Linked DNA regions of Homo sapiens. The protein of the gene in region 3 interacts with the protein of the main gene of each other region in a pairwise test. Each region holds a gene or a part of one and is shown on either strand. Other genes may lie near its edges.

Region 1 (7,000 bases), on a different chromosome or scaffold from region 3:
GGTGCAGTGAACTAGATTGCACCATTGCACTGCAGCCTGGGCAACAGAGCCAGACCCTATCTCTAAAATATAAAAAATAATAATTAAAAAAAGCAATAATAATAGCTCATACTCAACACTTACTCTGTGCACATTAACTCAACAAATTCTAATCCTCTCAACAAAGTCTAAGGTAGCTATTATGGTACCCATTTTCCACATGAGGAAACTGAGGCACAGGGAAGTGAAGTGGCTTACTCAGTGTGGCCCAGGTAGGATGCGGTAGAGCTGGGATTCCAACCTGCATCCCAGCAGACTCCAGAATGGACAGTCAATTGGGATCGTGGAAAGGGCACGGGTTTTGGCATCAAACAGGTGTGGATTCACACGCCAGCTCCACCCAGGGTGACATGAATCTTTTCTTCCTGAGCCCTAGTTTCCTCATTGATAAAATAAAAGGTTGTTTTGAAAAATAAAGCACGCTTATGAAGGGCCTAATGGAGCTTCTGCCCCAAGGTGGGGGCTGGACATGCAGGCGTCCATCTCTCCCTGCGTCCTGAGGAAGTCTCCTGATGGCGGGTGGGAGGGGAGGGCTGTCCGCCTCTGCCATTCAGCCAGCTGTGGGCCCCTGGCCAGGGTGGCACCTAGTGGGGTGGGCCCACAGGCAGAACAAAGAGCATCAAGGAGGGCTTGGGAGCTGCTCCTCCAGGGAAGCCATCCCTGCTCTGCTCACCCTCGTGGGGGAGAGGCTGCTTGCAGCGGGCAGGGCGGAGAGGGAGCTCCCTGTTCCTAGCGCTGGCCCCCTATCACCACCACCCCCGGGCTTGTTTCCCCCCCACACAGCAGGCGGCGGCCACCTCTGCTGCTCACGTCGCGGGGCCTGCCTCTCTGCCTCTCTGCTGCTCCTCCTGGCAACTGTGGCGGCCCTCATCGCCTTGGTCACCATTCTTGGACTCCCATCATGCACCCCAGGTCAGGGCGGCCAAGAGAGGGTGGGTCAGACCCGGCGGGGAGGGCATGGGAGGGCACAGAGAGATGAGGGAGCCCCGACCTGCCTGGCTTCTCCACCAGGTGACTTTGGACTAATTCCTTAAGGTGCATGCACAGACACACACAGACACCTGCACACACACTGACTATACCTGTTTCTGAGCCTCCATTTGCACATCTGTGACATGATTATTGAGAGGACCCAGCTCTGATGTCACCTCCTCCAGGATGCCTTCCTAGACCCCCAGGATGGGTTACGAGCCTCTTCTCAGCCCCCCAGTCCCTACACTTCCTCTTCCCCTGGCCTGGCCACCCCGGGGTGGTGCTATCCAACTGTGTGCCCATCTCCACCACAGGGGACCGGGTGACATCCCATACATGCCTGCAGCCCCAGCTTCAGGGGTGAACAACCCCAACACAGTGCCTGCCTTCAAGGAGCTAATAACTGTTCCGAGAGCCGTCTAGACGTGAATACACATTACAGCGGGGTCCCTGGGAGCCCTGAGAGTCTAGCCCCATTGAGGAGTCAGGGTAGGAACAATGGGTATTAGTAGTGGGGGGATGCCAGGAAAAGCATCCCAGGCACAGGGAACAGCATGTGTGGAGCCCTGAGGGGTGGGAGGAAGCAGGAAGAGAAGAAGAGACTGCAAGAGGCCAGTGCACAGGAAGGGCTGGAGTGACAAGTGGGGCCCAGTGCCAAGGGCCTCACAGGCTGCACCGAGAAGGGAGGTCATAGTCCAGGAGCCACAGAAAGGGGATTAAGTTGGGGGCAAGTTGGGGGCAGGCTGATGTTTCTGAAGGATGGCTCTGCAGCCAGGCAGGGTGGGTATAGAGGGCTGAGGTGGGGGCGGGGGCTGAGATTCGCAGCGCTCCCCCTGCCCTGCAGGAACACAGACCCTGAGGTGGATGAATACATGAGCAGCTGCAGTCAAGAGCCTGTGTGCACATCTGTGTGTTTAGCGTGTCTATGAGTGTACGCAGCTGTGTATGCATGTTCATGTCTGTGTGTCAGTGCGTGTGTGCACATCTGTTGTCTGTGTATCTGTGAGTGTGCACATAGGTGCAGCAGTGTGTGTGTGAGCATGTGTTCATGTGTGTGTGCATCTGTGTGTGTCTGTGTCAACATGAGTGTCTCTGAGAGTTGCTCCCCCCCGCCGCCTCCCCCACACACACTAGCTGAGGCAGCCCAGGGACTGAGAGGTGGTTCACGCATGCACAAACACAAATGCACAAACTGGCTCCCATCCCCAATTATGCACACGTATACACATGTGGGGCCAAGGGGTTCCTCCTACCTTGTCCGTAGGTTTCTGCCTTTTAATTCTTTGGGGCAGCCCTAGGAGTGGGTATTCCTTTTCTCCTCCCATATGGGGGGCTAATGATGACGTGTCGCAGGGGTGTTTGGGGAACTATAGAATAAAGATATGAAAGTGCTTTGCAGTTGTGCCCAGATAGAAGGAATTATGACATATGGCCCTCCAGCCAGCCCAAATATATTGCTTCTGACACTCTAACCTGGTACCAGGAGCTCCACCATTAAAACCACTTCACTGAATTGAACATTGTCCTCAGAAGCTTCCCATGACACTGTAAATAAGTTTTCAATACAAGAGAGAACCATTACTAGTTCTGCACATTTTCTGTTCTATGTTTCTTCACAGAGATGCTTTCATTTAATCCCCACAACAGTCCCACGGGGTGTGTGCTATGATTCCCATGTTGCAAACAACCTGAGACTCAGGGTGGTCAGGTCATCTGCCCAAGATCAGGCAGCCGGCAGCGGGTACAGCTGGGGCTTGAACCCCATTGATGGCGCTGGGTCCATCCTCCCCACTGCCCCAGCCCCTCAGGCCAGCTCTAGGCGGAGTTCAGGTGAGGAAGGTTTGTCCTTGTGAGCACCACCCTTGACCCTCCAGGGCCTTTCCCTGCCCATTCAGGAGCCCAAGCTTGTATAACACTGACAAACAGGACAGGCTTCTTGTGCCATGACCAGAGGAGCTGCATTCCAGCCAGTGGGGTCTGTGATGGCGTTCGCACCTGTACCCACGGCGAGGACGAGGATGAGAGCTTGTGCCGTGAGTACCCGCTCGGTGCTGCCCCTCCCAGGGGTTCCCCCACACTCCGATGCTCTTGGCATCCATACTGAACACATCAGGCACCTTCAAGTCCCCATGGCTTTGATGCTCCAGTGCCTTCATCCAGGAACACCTGCCCCGACCTGGTCCCAGTCAGGGACACACATACATGCCCCCACTAAGGAATGCCTTCACCCTGTGCGTCTCCACTCCCAGAGAACCCGTATTCATCCCTCAAGGCAGAGTTCAAATGTTACCTCCTCCAGGAAGCCTTCCCTGACTCCCACACTAGGTTAAAGTGTCTCCTTTGGGCTTCCACAGTCCCTGTGATTCCCTGTGTCCCAGCCCTTGTCACACTGGTTGTCGCTCTTGATTGGCACATCTGCCACCCCCATCAGACTGTGAACTCCTCTGAGGCAGGCCCAGTCCGCTTGATATCGGGGCCCCAGTGCCTAGCACAGAGGGGTATTCAGAACGGCTTGCTGAATGAATGAGCGAATGAATGAATGGGAAGACCTGGCCCCAGACCTTAGACACACCTGAAGGTTCTCAGGAGAGAGGAGCCTGACCCCACAGGAGAGAGAGAGCCTGGAGAGGTGCAGTGGGTGGGGTGGGGGAGCTCATGGAGGGAGAGTCATTGCATCACAGACCCTCAGGACAAGAAGCAATCTCAAAAGCATCTAGTCCTTGCCCCAGCTCATCCCCAATCCCCTCTCTAGCAAGCCCAACCGAGGCCACCCAGCCTCTGCTTGCATCCCAGGGGATGCAAGGATTGGAAGGTTTTTCCATGGGAAGGTTTTCCTTGTCCCAGGCTTAGAGCTGCCTCCCAGAGTGGTTCCTCCCTGATTGGTTCCAACTCTGTCCTTCTGTCAACCCTGCCCCGATAGACCACACTTTAATTTCTGCCATGATGGTGGTGCTGCATGGATTTGAAGATTGCTCCCTTGCCCTCCATGAGGTTTCTCTTCTCTACGCCACATCCCCTTCTCCAGGTCACAGTCAGCCCCCTTGTGACCCAGTTCCTGGCCCTCCCCACTCCATCAATGCTCCACAGAATGAATATCAACTTCCCATGTCCCCGTCCCTGGACAGGCCTCAGAAACATCCTCAGCCCTTCTAGCTGGGTCTGGGCAGTCTAACGAACAGAATCTTGCTCCCTCCCTGCCCAAGGTTTTCTACCTCTAGTGATGTGGCCTGAGTTTGTGTGAATTTTTGATAGCCCTATCACACTGCTGCCTAACAGAACACACTTTCAAGAAAGGTGCTCTGACTCTGCCTTACAAGGTGTGTGAACCCTAGATCTTCCCCTGAGATCCGGGGCCCAACTGTAAGACTCCACATTTATTCCTGTGATGTTCCAGTTGGAAGAGGCTTCCTGGAGGTGATGGAACTTGAACCTGAACTTGAAAGAATGGTTTTGGATAGGTGTCAAGGAGGCTCTTTGTGGAGGGGGGCATAGTGTCAGCAGTGGTGTGGGGCAGGAACACACCAGAGCTGGGGAGGAACTGAGGAAGGGAGGGGCAGATCTCTGGGCCTCTGTCCAGCAACGGAGCTCTCCTCTCCCTCTGACTCCACCACCTCCCCAGGAAACCTTCTGCTTGCACCCTTCTGGGCTGGATGGGCACTGATCCTGAGTTTGGCCACTGCCAGGGTGGTCAATCCTCCTCCCGATAACCCTCAGACAGCTGTGGCCAGATGTGGACTTCTTCCTGCCTCCTCTGTACCTCTACAGGAGATGTGCCCCAGAGCCTCCCCCACTTCCTTGTGGCCCACTGTGGAGACCCGGCCTCCTGGATCTACTCAGACCAAAAATGTGATGGCACTAACAACTGCGGGGACTGTTCAGATGAACTGAGCCCAGGTAGGGGTCTGGGCACAGGCTGGGCTGGGGCTGGTGTCCAGGCAGCAGCCAGAGGGCAAAGGGTGAGCAGGGAATCTCTAGGGCTCCCCCTTGCATGCTTCCCTGCATCCTAGGAAGGAGTTTTCTACCCCTGCTTGAATACATCCTGTGATGGGGTACTCACTACCACTCCAAGTGACTTTTTCTGGAGGCTCATTCTTCTGCAGTGGGGAAGTCACCTTCAAAGGCACAGATGAGAAAACTGGGTCCCAGAAGGTGGTCATGCAAGGAGTACATACATGGCCCAGCTGGGATTTGAACCTGGGGTTCCCTTATCTCTGCACCTCCCAGTGACCCTGTGAGGAAAGCAGGGCAGGAATCACTGGCCCCAATTTGTATGTAAGTAAATGGAGGCTTTGAGAGGAGAAACTTAGTACAATGTGTGACAGGAAGGGAGCTCAGGTGTGAACCCAGGCCTCCTGATCCAAGTCCCGAGTCCTGTAGCTGCCCTAGAGTTTCCTCTCAATCTCTTCCCCAGTGGTCAATCAACAAACATGTTCTGAGCATTGGTGGGGTGCTCAGAACGCACCTGGTATCAGATTCAGGTGGGGGACATCAGGAATCAGGCATGTGTCCTACCCCCAGGACTCACATCATGCTGATGCCGAAAGGAGGTGCTGGGGACCTGGAGGAATCAAGGGAGATTTCTCAGAAGAGGTAGCATTCAAGAAGACCAAGAATAGACGGGTTTCAGTAGGTAGAGGCTGGGTGTGTGGGGAGGAATGCCGGAGGCCTGAGCAGAGGAGAGAAGGCTAGGAGCACCCTCAGGCAGTCATGGCAGGTGAGCATAGCTGGACTCAGGGTAAGGAAGGGCACCCATTCATATTGCAGTCTTTACCGTGTGCCTGGGACTTTGCCTGACATCCTTTGCTTGATAACAAGCTTGAGCACACTAGGAAACAGTTTCAGACAGGGTGAGGGAGGTCACATAGCCTGTGAGCTGTGGAGTCTAGATTCTCTCTGCCGCAGGAAAACTAGGAACACACTCAACTCACGTCAGATGGGTTGGGGCCATGGGGAGCTACGGCAGGTTTCAGAACTAGGGAGTGCCCTGGTGCACAGAGCGTTCCAGGACACAGCAACTGCTCTCCTGCTGGCTCTTGTCTCTGCAGTAACTGTGTGCCCACCCTGCGGCCCTGGGTGGTGGCGCTGTCCTTCAACCTTCTTCAAGTACTGCGACTGTATACCGAGGCATCTCTGCCGCGACCATGTACAGCACTGCTCCGACTGGTCCGATGAGTATGCCTGTCCCGGACCCTGAGTGGGCCACTCAGGCCAGCATGGAAGGCTGGCTGGAATGGCACTGATAACCCTTCACATGAAAATCAAATCCTAGCGCACAAGGGCAGGAAGCAGCCTTTGAAATGGGATCTACACATCATTTCTGAATAGGAATTTTCTCTCCTCCTTTCAAGTTGTTCAGCCTCTGCTTGAATGCTTCCAATGACCAGGAGCTCATTACCATGTTAGGTGGCTTCTAACAAAGATGATGTGGTGGAACCCCGTCTCTACCAAAAATACAAAAATTAGCCAGGCATGGCGGTGCACACCTATAGTCCCAGCTACTAGGGAGGCTGAGGTGGGAGGACTGTGTGAACCCAGGAGGTCAAGGCTGCAGTGAGCTGTGACCACACCACTGCACTCCAGCCTGAGCAACACAGTGAGACCCTGTCTCAAAAAAAAAATGAAACAAAACACAAACACAAACAAAGACGAAGGGAATCTGCTTCCATGATTTCATGCCTGTCTCTGGGGCCACACAGAGGAAATCTGCTAACTGCTCCAAGGCATACTTGTGGATCCTAATCTCGTCATCCCTTAGAGTGATGACATGTCTGGGGCTTAAATGACAAGCCGAGTTTAGCCTTCATGGATGGCACATACGTGAAACATATGCCACTTCCTACCCCTTTGGTACCTAAGGCAGATATACTGGGCTTGGATGCAACTTTAGCATCTTCCCCAGTTTAGTTAACCCAGCAGGCTCTACTGATTTAACCAAGTGACACAGCACATGAAACAGGATATCTGGCATCCTACCAGTGGGAAGCCACCC
Region 2 (7,000 bases), on a different chromosome or scaffold from region 3:
CACCATGTCTCTTTCCTGCATCTGGCTATAAGCAACACATGGCAGTGCAGGGAAGAAGGGAAAGAAATCTCAACTCCCCAGAGCACAGAGAGCTGGGCCTACTTGTGCTCTGTCCTGGCCATCTGTGTAGCTTGAGGCAGACACTTTGGCTTTCAGGGCCCCACTCAGCCACCTCGAAATAAAGGGTAGAGGTTGCACTAGCAATCCCCTAACCCTCAGTCTATCTAAAAAAAGAGAAAAGGCCTCTGCGTGTGGGGCTCTGATGTGCACAAAGGAGGGGATTCTGCAGGAGCAATGGTATTGGAAGAGAACATCCCAACTCAACTCTCCTGCCCCACCTAAGGCCTCCACCGAAGCCTCCCACCTTCATCCCTTTTAATTCCCATAGCCCCCACCCTCATCTGCCCCGACAGCTACTAATCTCCTGACCTCTTCTCTTTAATGTTACCAGATTAAGTCTACTTATGTAATATGCAAATATGATATGTAGTCACTCATTTTAAAACAGTTATTAGCCAGGTGTGGTAGCTCACGCCTGTAATCCCAACACTTGTGGAGGCCAAGGTGGGCAGATCACTTTAAGTCCAGGGTTCAAGACCAGCCTGGCCAACAAACACAGTGAAACCCCATCTCTACTAAAAATACAAAAATTAGCCAGGCGTGGTGGCGCACACCTGTAATTCCAGCTACTAGGGAGGCTGAGGCAGGAGAATTGCTTGAACCTGGGAGGCAGAGGTTGAAATGAGCTAAGATCGCGGCACAGCACTCCAGCCTGGGCGACAAAATGAGACTCCGTCTCAAAAAAAAAAAAAAAATATATATATACACACACACACACACACACACACACACACACACACACACACACACAAACACATATATATATACATATATACACACACACATATATATACATATATACACATATATACACATATACATATATACACATATATATACACATACATATATATATATATATATAGAGAGAGAGAGAGAGAGAGATACATATATATATGGAAAAGGGAACACAAATAGGTGGAGTTACTTACAATTACCAAGTACTAATTAGGTAATATGCTGAGAGATTTATAAACATTATTCTTTTAATCTTCACAACAACCCTGTGAGGCAGGTACTAATTATTATTCCTAACTTACAGGGAAAAGCTGAGGCCCAGGGAGATAAAATAGCTGCTCAAGGCACACACCCATAAGGTGCTGAATGGGAGCTGGGTCCAGTGTGGCTCAACTCTGCAGTCCCTTCATCTCCCAAGGGTTCCCCCTCCACCACTCCTGCTCTCTGCCCCTTTGAGCAATAGGTAAAGGACTCTGTGGTCCAGTAAGCCAGGGCTTTCCGAAGCCCACTGTGTCCACTGGACAGCCCAGCCTGCAGGGAGGGCCCCGAGATCAGCCCATTCATGGAAGCCACCAGACGCCTTCTCTGCCAGCCCATTGTGTCACACCCCTCAAACACCTTCTAAGAAGTCATCGCTTCTCCCCAGAGCATCCTGCTAAGGGTCAAAGCACCACAATATTCCCATAGCAAGCCAGGAGAGGGGGAATAATCACATGCAACTAGAAGAAAACATCTGCTTTACCACATTCCTGGAGGCTTTTCCAGAAGCAACAGTGCCTGATTTTCCAGCACGCAATCTTTAAGTGTCTTCCCAGTGCCCCTCCCCAGTCTCCAATCCACGCCTCAGCAGCACAGGACAGACTGATCTTAATACTTACGGACCCTTGATTCCTCAGATGAAAGGTTTGGAGAAATACTCTGGCAAGTTACACCAAAATTAAAATGTCCTATTACCATAACTAGCATCCGGGAGAAACAGAGAATGTGAAATCAGGAGCTCTTGCTTCCAGGTACCACAATGCCACCACTGGTGGCATGACGCTTACACCACCCTGAGCTGAGCCATGGTCCTTGAGGGTTTGGTTCCCTCATCTTCTATAGTTGCTATGGACCCACCACTCTTAACATCTACGATCTCAGCAATAAGAATCAAGAAGCCAAATAACCAGTTCTCACTGCTAGGGGCTTAAGCAGAGGGAGTCGAGCCAGAGTCGCCGCGATGGTGTTGTTGGAGAGCGAGCAGCTCCTGACGGAGCTGACCAGACTTTTCCAGAAGTGCTGGACATCAGGCAGCATCATATCACCTTGAAGAAGTATGACAGTCGAACCAAATCCATTCCAAAGAAAGGTACTGTGGAGGGCTTTGAGCCTGCAGACAACAAGTGTCTGTTAAGAGCTACCGATGGGAAAAAGAAGATCAGCACAGTGGTGAGCTCCGAGGAAGTGAATAAGTTTCAGATGGCTTATTCAAACCTCCTGAGAGCTAACATGGATGGGCTGAAGAAGAGAGACAAAAAGAACAAAACTAAGAAGACCAAAGCAGCAGCAGCAGCAGCAACAGCAGCACAGTAAAGGACATACATTTCCTGCTTTCACCAATTAACCACTGAATTGCTATTTTTTCCTTTTGGCCACATAGCTAGGTTTCTGGTTCCCCCACAGTAGGTGTTTTCACATAAGATTAGGGTCTTTTTGGAAAGAATAGTTGCAGTGTTTATAGGATAGTTGTGGTAAGAATCTAGTTTATTTTGCATTTGGCTAATTGGTCTGTGCTGCATGGTTATATACTCCTGGATTATAGATAAAAAGTCTCCGTAGACATCTCTGTGAAGAGCAAGCTATCATTAAACATGTCTGTTTATCAAGAAAAAAAAAAGAAGCCAAATGATGAGGTTTGCAACCTCACCAATAATAAATGAAATGCCTACTGAACAATGATCCATTTCTTTCACCCAGGGGAATGGCAGCCCATTACCACTGACAACAGGAACTAGCACATCTCTTGAGAGCATAGTATGGGTACTGCTGCAACATTTTAAATGAATTTAACATTTGACATGCCAATTCTACTCCTAGAGAAACATGTGCATACTAATATGTATGAATGAAGATATAATAGCAAAACTAATGAGTTAGTTTATATGTCTACCAGTAGGGGACCAATTCATAAATTATGACATAACTACACTGGAAAATATTTTGTAGGCAAATAAAAGACAAATTAAAAGAACAGAGAAGAGCTACATGCATGAAAAGCTCTCGAAAATATACTATGTGAAAAAAGCAGTATGATGCAATCAGATTCATGCTTCTAAAAGAAGGAAAACCATAGTGTATTTGTGTATACAGGCTTGACAGTTTCAGGACACGGATCCAACTGCTAACACCAGTTATCTCTGAGGACCTGGAGGAGCTGGCACCTGGGGAGGGGTGCTGGGTGAAGGGGAATGTGACAAGTCTGCTGTGTCCTTCTGCACTATTTAAATGCAAGGGCAGGCTGCAGGAGAATACATTTACATATTACCTATATGATTTCAGAAAAAAAGCACCTAAACTGATTAAAAAACCACCACCACCAAAACAAGCTACTTATGCTGATGTGAAATTGCTGCACCAATTTGAACAGGTTTCTATGCTGCACTTCCAGGTCTTCCCAAGACTGACAAAGTTCAAGCCAATTTCTGCAGTACTGATGACAGACTGAATTGGGACTAACAAGGAAGAAGGAAAATGTGGGATGCAAGGAAAACATCTGTAAAAGCTCTGTGGAAGCTGCAAACCAGTCCTACCCTGAACCTGCTCATCACCAAAACTCACTAGTTCTGGGGCCTTCCTCCCTCTCATCCCTATAGGATGAGAAATAAGCCAAAACCGGAATCAAGAGAGAATTCCCTTTCCCACGGCAGAGGGAGGCCTCCACTGTCACCAGCAGAGCTGCTCCCAGGCAAAGCCAAAGAAACGGCCTGGCCAAACTCCACCTTCCTGACAAAGGCACCATGTGCCAGGCTCCTGGGATTGCAGGGACAGCCAAGACTGGCAGCCCTGAAGCCCACGCATTTGAGTCCCTCCACTTCGGCAAACAGCCCAGGAATCTTTTCACACTCACTACTGAAATCCAAACTGAACCAGTATACAAATCAGATGGTCCTGCCAACAAAACAGGAACAAAATGGAAAAAAGGGTGATAAATCAATGATATCCTGGCTAAATATATACTTCTTCTTTCTGCTTGCAGGGGCACTGCTATAGATTTAAACCTTTGATAAATATCTTTTTTGCTTCCCAGTAATAATTAAAGCAAACACACCCAAACACGCACCTAAACACGAAGCAAAAAGAACGAGAAAAGGGCTTTGCTCAGGACATAATGTTCAAGAGGTAGGCATGACAGCTCATATCCACAGGCAGAAATGCTCTTCTCCCATTAAAACATGTACCTGTCTGGCACGGGTTCTTACCCCACAAAAGAAACAACTGGACACTCTAGGGGACTGCCGAGAAGTGCCCTCAGAACAAGAAGAGGTTCCCTCTTTGAGGGAAAAGTGTAAACATCAAGCAGAAAGTGGGTGAGCAGACTCTTGCACGGAGTGACTCACCGGCAGAGACAGCTTGTTGCTGGAGATGCTGGGAGCAGGCAGGTCCAACAGAGGTAACCTGGCTTCCTCCTCGCAGCGAGAACACAGCCCAAATAAAGCCAGAATCTGACCACCTGACCTCCGGCCTGACCAGAGCCAGCACAAACTCTCAGAAGGGCAGGGATGTTGCACAATTTGGAAAAACGGAAGCCCAAAAGCAAGTTTATGACCACGTCTGGCACTGACTAGGGGAAAGGGCACAAAACCAGTATATTCCTGACATGGCAACAGTGCGTCCTACCGATGACAGGACATGCAGACCCCAGCCAATCATCTCCTTGGGCTCTGATGCCCGCTTCCCTGAGCATGGCTTGGCGCCCCGCAGAGACTGCACCCGTCAGAGGAGGCTGGCCTCGACTCCTCTTGGGGCTGGCCATTATGTTCACTGCCACTCCTGCTTCCCAGTCAACCCCTGCAAGTTTGGTGACCACAAGTTAACCCCATCTAGGGCAGATCAACTCTTATGGAATAGCCAAAACTGAGGACCAAACCCTGGTGGGTCCCCTGTGCCACCAGGGAAGAGGGGTGTGCAGACAATACCCCAGGAAGGCGTCTTCCCTTCCACACTTCTAACCTTGACTAGCATTTCCCAAAATGCAGTCTGAGGAATCCAACTTCATTCTCTGCGATGCTCCTGGAAAGTTAGGAATGATAAGGCTGGGGTGGCACAGGGAAGGGAAGGCCCTTTCGGACTGTGCTCAGCCACCTTTCTCTAGCTGTTAGCAGAGACCAAAGGAGGCACTTTTGGTTTCTGCAGAGATTGCTTTTAGCCTGCACATAGTCAGCATCTCCAACACCCATCCCTGGGGCATCAGACCTGAAATGGGAAGGGATGATGCAATTCTAGTATCCAAAGGCACTAAGCTCTATGGATTCCAACAAGCCCCCTCTTCTCCGCAACCACTGCCACTGTCTTAATGTCTTCTGTTCAGGCCCTCATCTCTCAAGACATTACTTTAATGAACTAGTTTCTCTACACCTAATTTCTACTTGCTTCACTTCAAAACTCCAGACAGCCACCGAGCTACCTTTCTAGAATACAGGCCTGACCCTCTCTGCCTACAGGACTAAGTCCCAACCCTGGCACAGCATGCAAGGCCCCTGCCTGCCTTTCCAGCTGGAAGCATGGGCTTTGGAGTCCTACAGATCATTGCAGTGACACTTAGATAAACCACTTGCTGGCTATGTGAACACACATGTGTTTCTGCACCCATTTCCACATCTGTGTGTTGGGAATAGCATGATCAGCCTCCCAGAGCTACTGTGAGGACCGAATCCAAGTTCTAAAGAGCCTAGATCTCACCAACCTAGCTCCAGGGTCCTCTCTCTTTCCCATCTTGCTATACCAGCTCTTCATAATCAATGAGAATTGACTCAAGGGTAAAAAAAAAAAAATACATGCAAGATCTAAAAATGAAGGGTCATAAATTTAAAAATTAGGCCACCACAATGTGAAAGAAACCAAAATTAACTCATTATCAAAATAATGTAGGAGGACGGAAGGAACAGGAAGAGAAGGAAAACAGTACATTTAGGAAGAAATGCTTTTAAAATATAAGTCTCTATGATGTTTTGAGCCTCATTTGCTCCAAAGATTTAGGAAGATGACATTTCAAAAGCTCACAAAGACGACACTTCTACTTTTTAAAAACTATTTCCTAATTATTATCTTCAGAGAACTAAGAAGTACTTTCACAGACTGAATGTTAATAAAATTCTCAGAGGAAATTCTGGCATCAGTCACAACAAACACCCTCTTGGAATTTAATTTCCTTTCAGCATACAATTTACTATGGAAACTCATTTGTGATGCCACCACAACCAGTCAAAATCTGCCTGGAGCACAAAAACTTCAGAGTCCCAAAAGAGGGCCTTAAAGGACTAGATGGAAATTGGTCCCATATTAAGCCAAATCCTGCATCTAACAGAAATTTCCCCCACACCAAACTAGCTTTGACCGTCAGCCAGCCCACTCCTCTCTCTAGCTGCCCTATACTATAGGCTCTTCCAGGGCCCCCTTCCAGCTAGAACCCCCTGAATTCTGTATCTTTTCCCTGTCCAACAAAATTAATTTAAAAAAAAAAAAAAGGAGGAAGGCCACAAAATGGGCAAAGGGAAACCAGCTACATCCATTTTCAACTTTCTATCAAAGACCTGTCCTTTCTGGCTTACGATTTTTTCAATTCCCTTGGACAAGACAATCACAGGCCCTGGAATATTCATTGCGCGTGCTGGGGCTTAGGGTGGGAAGGCAAAAAGGCTAGAAGAATCATTGATAAGTACAAAAAGTACTTTAAGCCTTTTCCCCCTGAGGACAACTGCTGAAAGACTTACTCAATCCCATTGACCCAAGTACCTGTGTGCAAGGGAAAGGAGTGGATGCCAATCTTTACTCAGCACCCACTGCAATTAGTGGGTACATTTCTTGAATATAAGACAGACAGTATTATCCTGATTTTACACATGTGGAAACCAGGCTCAGAGAGGTCAGGCAGCAGGTTCAGTAT
Region 3 (6,738 bases):
CCCAGGACAGGCCCTAGCTCCTCGCCTAGAGAACTGATTGATCTCCTCTGGTACTCTCTCACCAGATGGCTTGACTGTCTAAAATTTACATCTTAAATCACCTCCTGGTTTAAAAGAAGTAAACCCAGCTAACTATATGATGAAGTGTGACCCCTGGGAGGGCACACACATTTCAATTAGGTTCAGTACTAACCTACATTTTTCAGTTTCCTCTGTATCCATCCTGTTTTCCAGGCACGTGGAACTTCCAGTTCCTTCTGGATCCACTTTCACTGGTGTCCCACTGTCATTTCCATCAGGGCACACTCTTCTTCTCTCCTGTACTTCCTGAGCACTCCTCCCGTGAGCGCCCTCCTGCCACTACCTGGAGGCAAATGCTCTGAATGCCACAGTCCCGAGGCACTCACGAATGCTCACACTGCGGTGACTGTCCCCACAGAACACCGTTCACACCCTGAGCACTGTTAGGAACTCCACTGCTGGGGAAGCCAGATGACTGGAAGGCTGTGTGTAGGCGAGGAGGCCTCATCGCCTGAAACTCCCAGGCAACAGGTGCGACAGAAAAATGATATACTGACAGGAAAAGTTTTGTGAGAGCTTTAATGGCACAAAATGTTTATAGCTACAAGTTATACATGTATTGTAAACTGTATATAACGATACAAAGTGCTAACTAAAATAGATGAAGAATGCATAATCACTTTGGCTCAGTTAATTCCAATAATTTCCACAACGGGTTCATGAAAAAACTTATCTGACTGGCTAAGTCTTCAATTCTCATTTTTTTAGAATAGTAAATATTTTTACTGCAATCACGGGAACTTGTTGCACTTTCCAATGTGCAAGTTTGTGCAGTTTTGCTCTTGATTCTATTTACAAACATCTTGAGCCAGTTTTCATCAAACATATGAAAAATGAAGCCTGCCTTTTTGTCCCCAAATTGTAAACAGGTGTAAAGCTTTTTAAACATTAACCTCACAATTTCAACTATTAATTGTTGAATTCTCCTTTCCAAACCACAATGTTTTCGTTCAACACAAATCTGGGTGTAGCAGTAAAACGTTCATCCCATGTGTTAGGGCTACAGATACATACTACATGCTCTCATAATAAATTCTACTGTGATGATGTATTCACGTTTTAAGTAATTTTCCATAATTTCACTGATGCTTTAAGAAAAAGGGCAACACTATGTTTCTTTTTAACGCTGAAAGAAATCATAAATATACCCAGTTTCAGTGGCACCACTGATAGAACTGCTGCTGAACTTGGAAAGAGCACAATGCACTAGCTGTAAGAAGTCACTTTCAGGTAAAGTGTAATTTTACTTTTCCCCCCTGTAATACCAATTGTAATAGAAATTGCATACTGTAGCAGTTTAGCTAGTCAGTTCTCCTAACTTTCCAGTCTTTCCAATTTTATTCAGGCTTTTCAAAAATCAGTGAGCCATCAGATTTACTTTCTTCCCAAAGAAATTCAAATATGAACACTTGAAATAAATAGGTTATAGAAGGCAAATCAAGTGTTACCAGGTTTAAGAGTAAGACAGAAACATGGTCTAGGAAAAAGATGTCCAAAATTATTTAGACATCAAATGCTAGAAAGAAAAAAGAAAATTACTTTCAAAACTAGGATATATCATCTTTCTTAAAGATAGCCAGCTATATTCTTGAAAAAAGATAAAAATTTTGTTTAATCTATATGTTATTTTCCACTATAACACATCAATTTTACAAATGTTGATGTGAGAAAAGAGTTAGTTTCTGCAAACTGGCAAACCTGTCTGTCATAGTGTTTTTATTCAAGTTGACCTGGTGCACTTTATAGATTGCTAGTTTTAAAATTAACAACGGTTCTCTAAATAGTCAATATCAATGTCTATATCATAAACAGTAATTATTTATATATAAAACATGTGGTATCCTTCAGAGTCATGCTAGATGTTCTGAAATCCAAGAAAATCTACTCGAGATAACTGGTCATCCTGATGCTTTCTAACAATTTGGTCCTAAAGCTTCACATTTTAGAAATGAACGAACAAGTATATCACTGAAGGAATCTGTTGAGTGTTCTGAACTTTAAGAGTTTACCATAACTGAAAAGACAGCTACATGAGAAAATGACCAGTGCCTGCAGTCGCAGGAATCACCTTGGGAAGACTGTACAGTAAACATTATTCAGTGAGAGATCAGAAGGAAACAAATGGCATCTTTTCAGAACGCTGTCAACTGTTCCCACAACCCAAGTCTGTTTTTCCAAGTTGCACAAGTGCTTGGAATAACTCTGAAACAATTCTCTTCAGAGTTTAAAGGCTTCAGAGTATAGGTGATGCTTCCTAAAACAAGAAGCCTGTATTAACATCACAAATTGGAACTCATTCCAAAGCCTCTTCTTAGAGAAAAAAAAATAAAGAAATAAAAAATAAAAAATGTAAAGAAGGTCATGAAAAATTCACATGCAGCTAATTATCGTAAAAAATATCAAACACACACGCAAAAATCTCAAAAAGCAATTTCATATATTTCTAAGCCTGAGACGTTCCTTATCAGAAAGAAAGATTCTACACCATAGAAAAGACAGCATTACAACATACTAGTATGAAAATCTGCTGATGTATTTTACTTCTTATTCTATTTCATACCTATCATTTATACAGTTTGCCTCCTATAAATTAAAAGACGCTATTAGGAGGCTTAGACAAAAAAGTGGCTCCAAAGCTGGTTTAAAATATTTTTTTTATTGCCCAGGATATTTTTTTGTTGTGCCTTGCCTTTTTTTTTTGTTTTGTTTTCTTTTTAATAACTATCAACTCAAACTTAGGGAAACTTGCCTTTGTCTTGGGGGAAAAAAAACAACTAGACAATAAAGCTTCTTTTACATCATTTGCTAACCTGATCTCGTTTTAAGAGAGAGATGGTAGTTATGTTGCAAGAGTAAAATTTATACCATGAATGATACAGGTCTAGTCTGGTGGCACTAATTAGAGATAATAGCATTGCTGACAAAATTATAATCTGCTGGTGGCATTTGCGGAAAAGAAGCCCTTGCAAATTTCTAAACAACAGTAAACTCTGTTAGGAAATTCTAAAATGTCTTCAGGCCAAAAAGGGTATAAGGTTAGTAAAATGCCTCAACAGAGTTTGAATAAAATATTGAATTTGAGAGTTACTGGAATTGGATATGTAAAAACAGGGTGGTAGGTTGGGTCATGCTTACAATGGTCTCAAGTTCAAATAAGCTACTGTGACAATACACCACTTCACAGGTCACACGCATTTCCAGGGGCTTTTCCTTTCCCTCAGTAGGTGCTGGCAGAGGGTGTGCTCAGTCGCTTTCCAATATAGATGCTGAAAGGAAGCAGAAGCATCATGTTTCACCTGTTTCAACAGTTCTATACCAGCTTGTCCACAGGTTGAACTCTACTTAAAACTCTTCAGTCTTTGTAAAAGGCTCTAAAGGTTTGTGGGTACCGCTCCCCAAACACCGTGAAATCATCACTGACTTTCTTAAAACCAGTCACCAGCCCGGCCAAACTGGTTTTATATGAGTTTGTTTACTCATTAAATATCGGGGCTCGACAGCAAAGGGGTAGTGATTAGACAAAGTAAAGCCAGAGAGAACAGATCCCTCCACAGAGTAAATAAAGCAGCCCAACTCCTTCAAGATGTTCCTCTTTGGTGGACAGAAGGTTCTACTGACATTTCAGACACAAAAATATAGTAATATGTGAAATTATTCTGGTGCTCTATGTAGGACAAAAGAAAAAAAAAACCTTAAAAGCTGCCAGTGCTTTAAAGACAGCTCTTACTAATAACTCCTAAGGATTAGGGGCCTTATAATACTTTTTCATGCCAAGAAAGTATTTGGCCTCTTCAACAGCAAAAGCAGAAGGGAAGTTAAGGAAAGTATGTAACTAGCTTCACCTCCAGTGCAATTAAAGCAACGAACTTTTTAAACACTCTTTTTACATTCATCTATAGCAATAGTTATACTTACAGCCAAGACAAACAATCTGAAGATGACTGAAAGAGAGACGGCAAGGTATAGACACCAATCGCTTAAGGGCAATGAACTGCTGTATAGGCAGCAATGTATTAAACTCCTACACCTGCCCCACATCAACCCCCACGCAACAGTCACACAGTCCCCTTCTGCACAAACCCCTTCTAGGTTGCTGTTTGTTGATTACTGTCCTTGCCCTCACAAAAGCAGATCAAGCACCCAAGAGAGACAAGACGGGTGTGTGGAAAGCTGTATGCAAGTTTCTGAGGTCGTGACTAAGAATCTCTCTCCAATATGCTGAGCTCCTTAAAGGGAAGAAAAAGGATGACCCCATCTTCTGCATATCTTATACTGAAAATGACCCACTGGGCATGCTTAGAGCACAACATACGTCTTGAAAAAAATTAACAGCTACTGTTTAACTCCTAAAATCTTTCAGAAGTGTAATTCCTCAATTGTTTAAATCAAGGAAAAAAAGCAATTTATTTAAAAGATGTGGCTAAGAAACTAATGAATTACACGTAAATATGAGGTTGATTTTAGCAAAATAAATGAAAATACTACAAAGTTAAAAAAGGAAAAAATTAGCACCAATCAACCTACCAGTTTCATTAAAAAAAACTATTCAATGTAATCATGTATTTTCCCATATGAAAAAAAGGTATTTGCACTGACCACAAAATGTACATGCTAAAGATTAGTTTAGTTCATAAATTACTCAAGATTAAATATTACACAACAAAACCCAAAAAGAAAAATCAATCACAGAGGAGTCCGCTTACATTTGATCATTTAGGGGATTATTATGAACATCTTCTTTTTTTTTTTTTTTTTTCCGAGATGGAGTCTCACTCTATCCCCCAGGCTGGAGTGCAGTGGCATGATCTCGGCTCACTGCAATTTCCGCCTCCCATGTTCAAGCGATTCTCCTGCCTCAGCCTCCCAAGTAGCTGGGACCACAGGCATGTACCACCATGGCCAGCTAATTTTTGTATTTTTAGTAGAGACCGGGTTTCACCATGTTGGCCAGGCTGGTCTTGAACTCCTGGCCTCAGGTCATCCACCCATCTTGGCCTCCCAAAGTGCTGGGATTACTGGCATGAGCCACCACACCAGGCCAAACATCTTATTTTCAAATAAGAAAACACACTCTACTATTATTAAAAATGCTTATTTGTAGAACAATTGTGCACCCACTTTTTTAAGTTCACCTTATTTGCACTAAAACATTGAAAGTAAAGCAATAAAAACTGCTTTCACATACATTTCTTCAATCTGAAAATAAGAGGATAAAATGAATGGAAAAAACTTCAGGAGTTGACCGGTACTTACCCTAGCCCCAAAGCCAAAACATGAGAAAGGAAGAGAGATGGAATGAACACCTTCAGAAATTCTGCGGAGAAAATACCCCCTTTCTTCATGGCTCCACTTTTCCTCATGCTTAAAGACACAGAACGTTTAGGGTGTCTGAAGTGGAACTCCCTGAGAAAGAAATTCAGAGGCAGATGTCATTTGCTGAAAATATCGTGGGGATTACCAGGCCCATTGCCTGTAAGCGTGCGCAGATCAACTGTGTCCACTGACAAGAAACATGTGAGAACTCACTTGGGTGGAATGTTTTCGGGTCTACTGGACCAGTCTGATACCCAGTCCGCACTTTTCTTCAAAGCCTCGACTTCCTTCTCTCCTTCTACAACTTCTTCTTCTGACTGTAAAGAAGAATTCAAACTTTAAGAAAAAAAGGAAGACCAATTCCTCCTAATACAAAGAAAAATCTAGACAGAAAAGATACCAAACTCATAAGGTTGTGTCTCAGAAATTTTAGATAACAAACATGTTGCTTTTCTAAAAAATGCTGAAAAATAATGTAAGATCAGAGTATGTAATATCTTCAGAACAACCTGAGTGAGCTTCACTGTTGGGATATCTAAGCACAGCACAGGAACTGCATAAGACTGTACTTTGGGATGTAATGCTAAGGGAAGTATGAAAAACCTCGATAAGAGTTAAATCTGGGCAATACTTACATGGAGGTCCATTATATTATTCTCTCTTGTATGCACTTAAAATTTTCGTAATTAGGCCGGGTGCAGTGGCTCATGCCTATAATCCCAGCACTTTGGGAGGCTGAGGCAGGCGGATCACTTGAGGTCAGAAGCTGGAGACCAGCCTGGCCAACATGGTAAAACCCCGTCTTTACTAAAAAAAAACACAAAACTTACACGCTGGGTGCGGTGGCTCACGCCTGTAATCCCAGCACTTTGGGAGGCCGAGGTGAGCGGATCACAAGGTCAGGAGATCGAGACCATCCTGGCTAACACAGTGAAACCCTGTGTCTACTAAAAATACAAAAAAATTAGCTGGGCGTGATGGCGGGCACCTGTAGTCCCAGCTACTCGGGAGGCTGAGGCAGGAGAATGGCGTGAACCCAGGAGGCGGAGCTTGCAGTGAGCAGAGATCGCGCCACTACACTCCTGCCTGGGGGAAAGAGCGAGACTCCGCCTCAAAAAACAAAACAAAACAAAACAAAAAAAAATTAGCCGGGCATGGTGGCGGGCACCTGTAATCCCAGCTACTTGAGAGGCTGAGGCAGAAGAATCGCTTGAGCCTGGGAGGTGGAGGTTGCTTGAGCCTGGGAGGTGGAGCCGAGATCCAGCCACTACACTCCAGCCTGGGTGATAGAGTGAGATTCCATCTCAACAAAAAAAAGAAAAAAAAAAATTTCATAATTAAAAA

What was found. The genes of interacting proteins can lie anywhere in the genome.
Region 1: the proteins of BNIP3L (region 3) and LDLRAD1 interact in binary tests that used the Homo sapiens proteins (3 or more experiments, as listed by UniProt).
Region 2: the proteins of BNIP3L (region 3) and SMCO4 interact in binary tests that used the Homo sapiens proteins (3 or more experiments, as listed by UniProt).

The regions. Positions count from the first base shown.
Region 1 is NC_000001.11:54,008,187-54,015,186, reverse strand, and holds part of LDLRAD1 (low-density lipoprotein receptor class A domain-containing protein 1), read left to right. Parts: intron 1-822; coding exon 823-951; intron 952-2,906; coding exon 2,907-3,044; intron 3,045-4,776; coding exon 4,777-4,905; intron 4,906-6,056; coding exon 6,057-6,205; 3' UTR 6,206-7,000.
Region 2 is NC_000011.10:93,533,392-93,540,391, forward strand, and holds part of SMCO4 (single-pass membrane and coiled-coil domain-containing protein 4), read right to left. Parts: intron 1-7,000.
Region 3 is NC_000008.11:26,406,973-26,413,710, reverse strand, and holds the end of BNIP3L (BCL2/adenovirus E1B 19 kDa protein-interacting protein 3-like), read right to left. Parts: intron 5,712-6,738; coding exon 5,608-5,711; intron 5,485-5,607; coding exon 5,335-5,484; intron 3,348-5,334; coding exon 3,299-3,347; 3' UTR 584-3,298; downstream 1-583.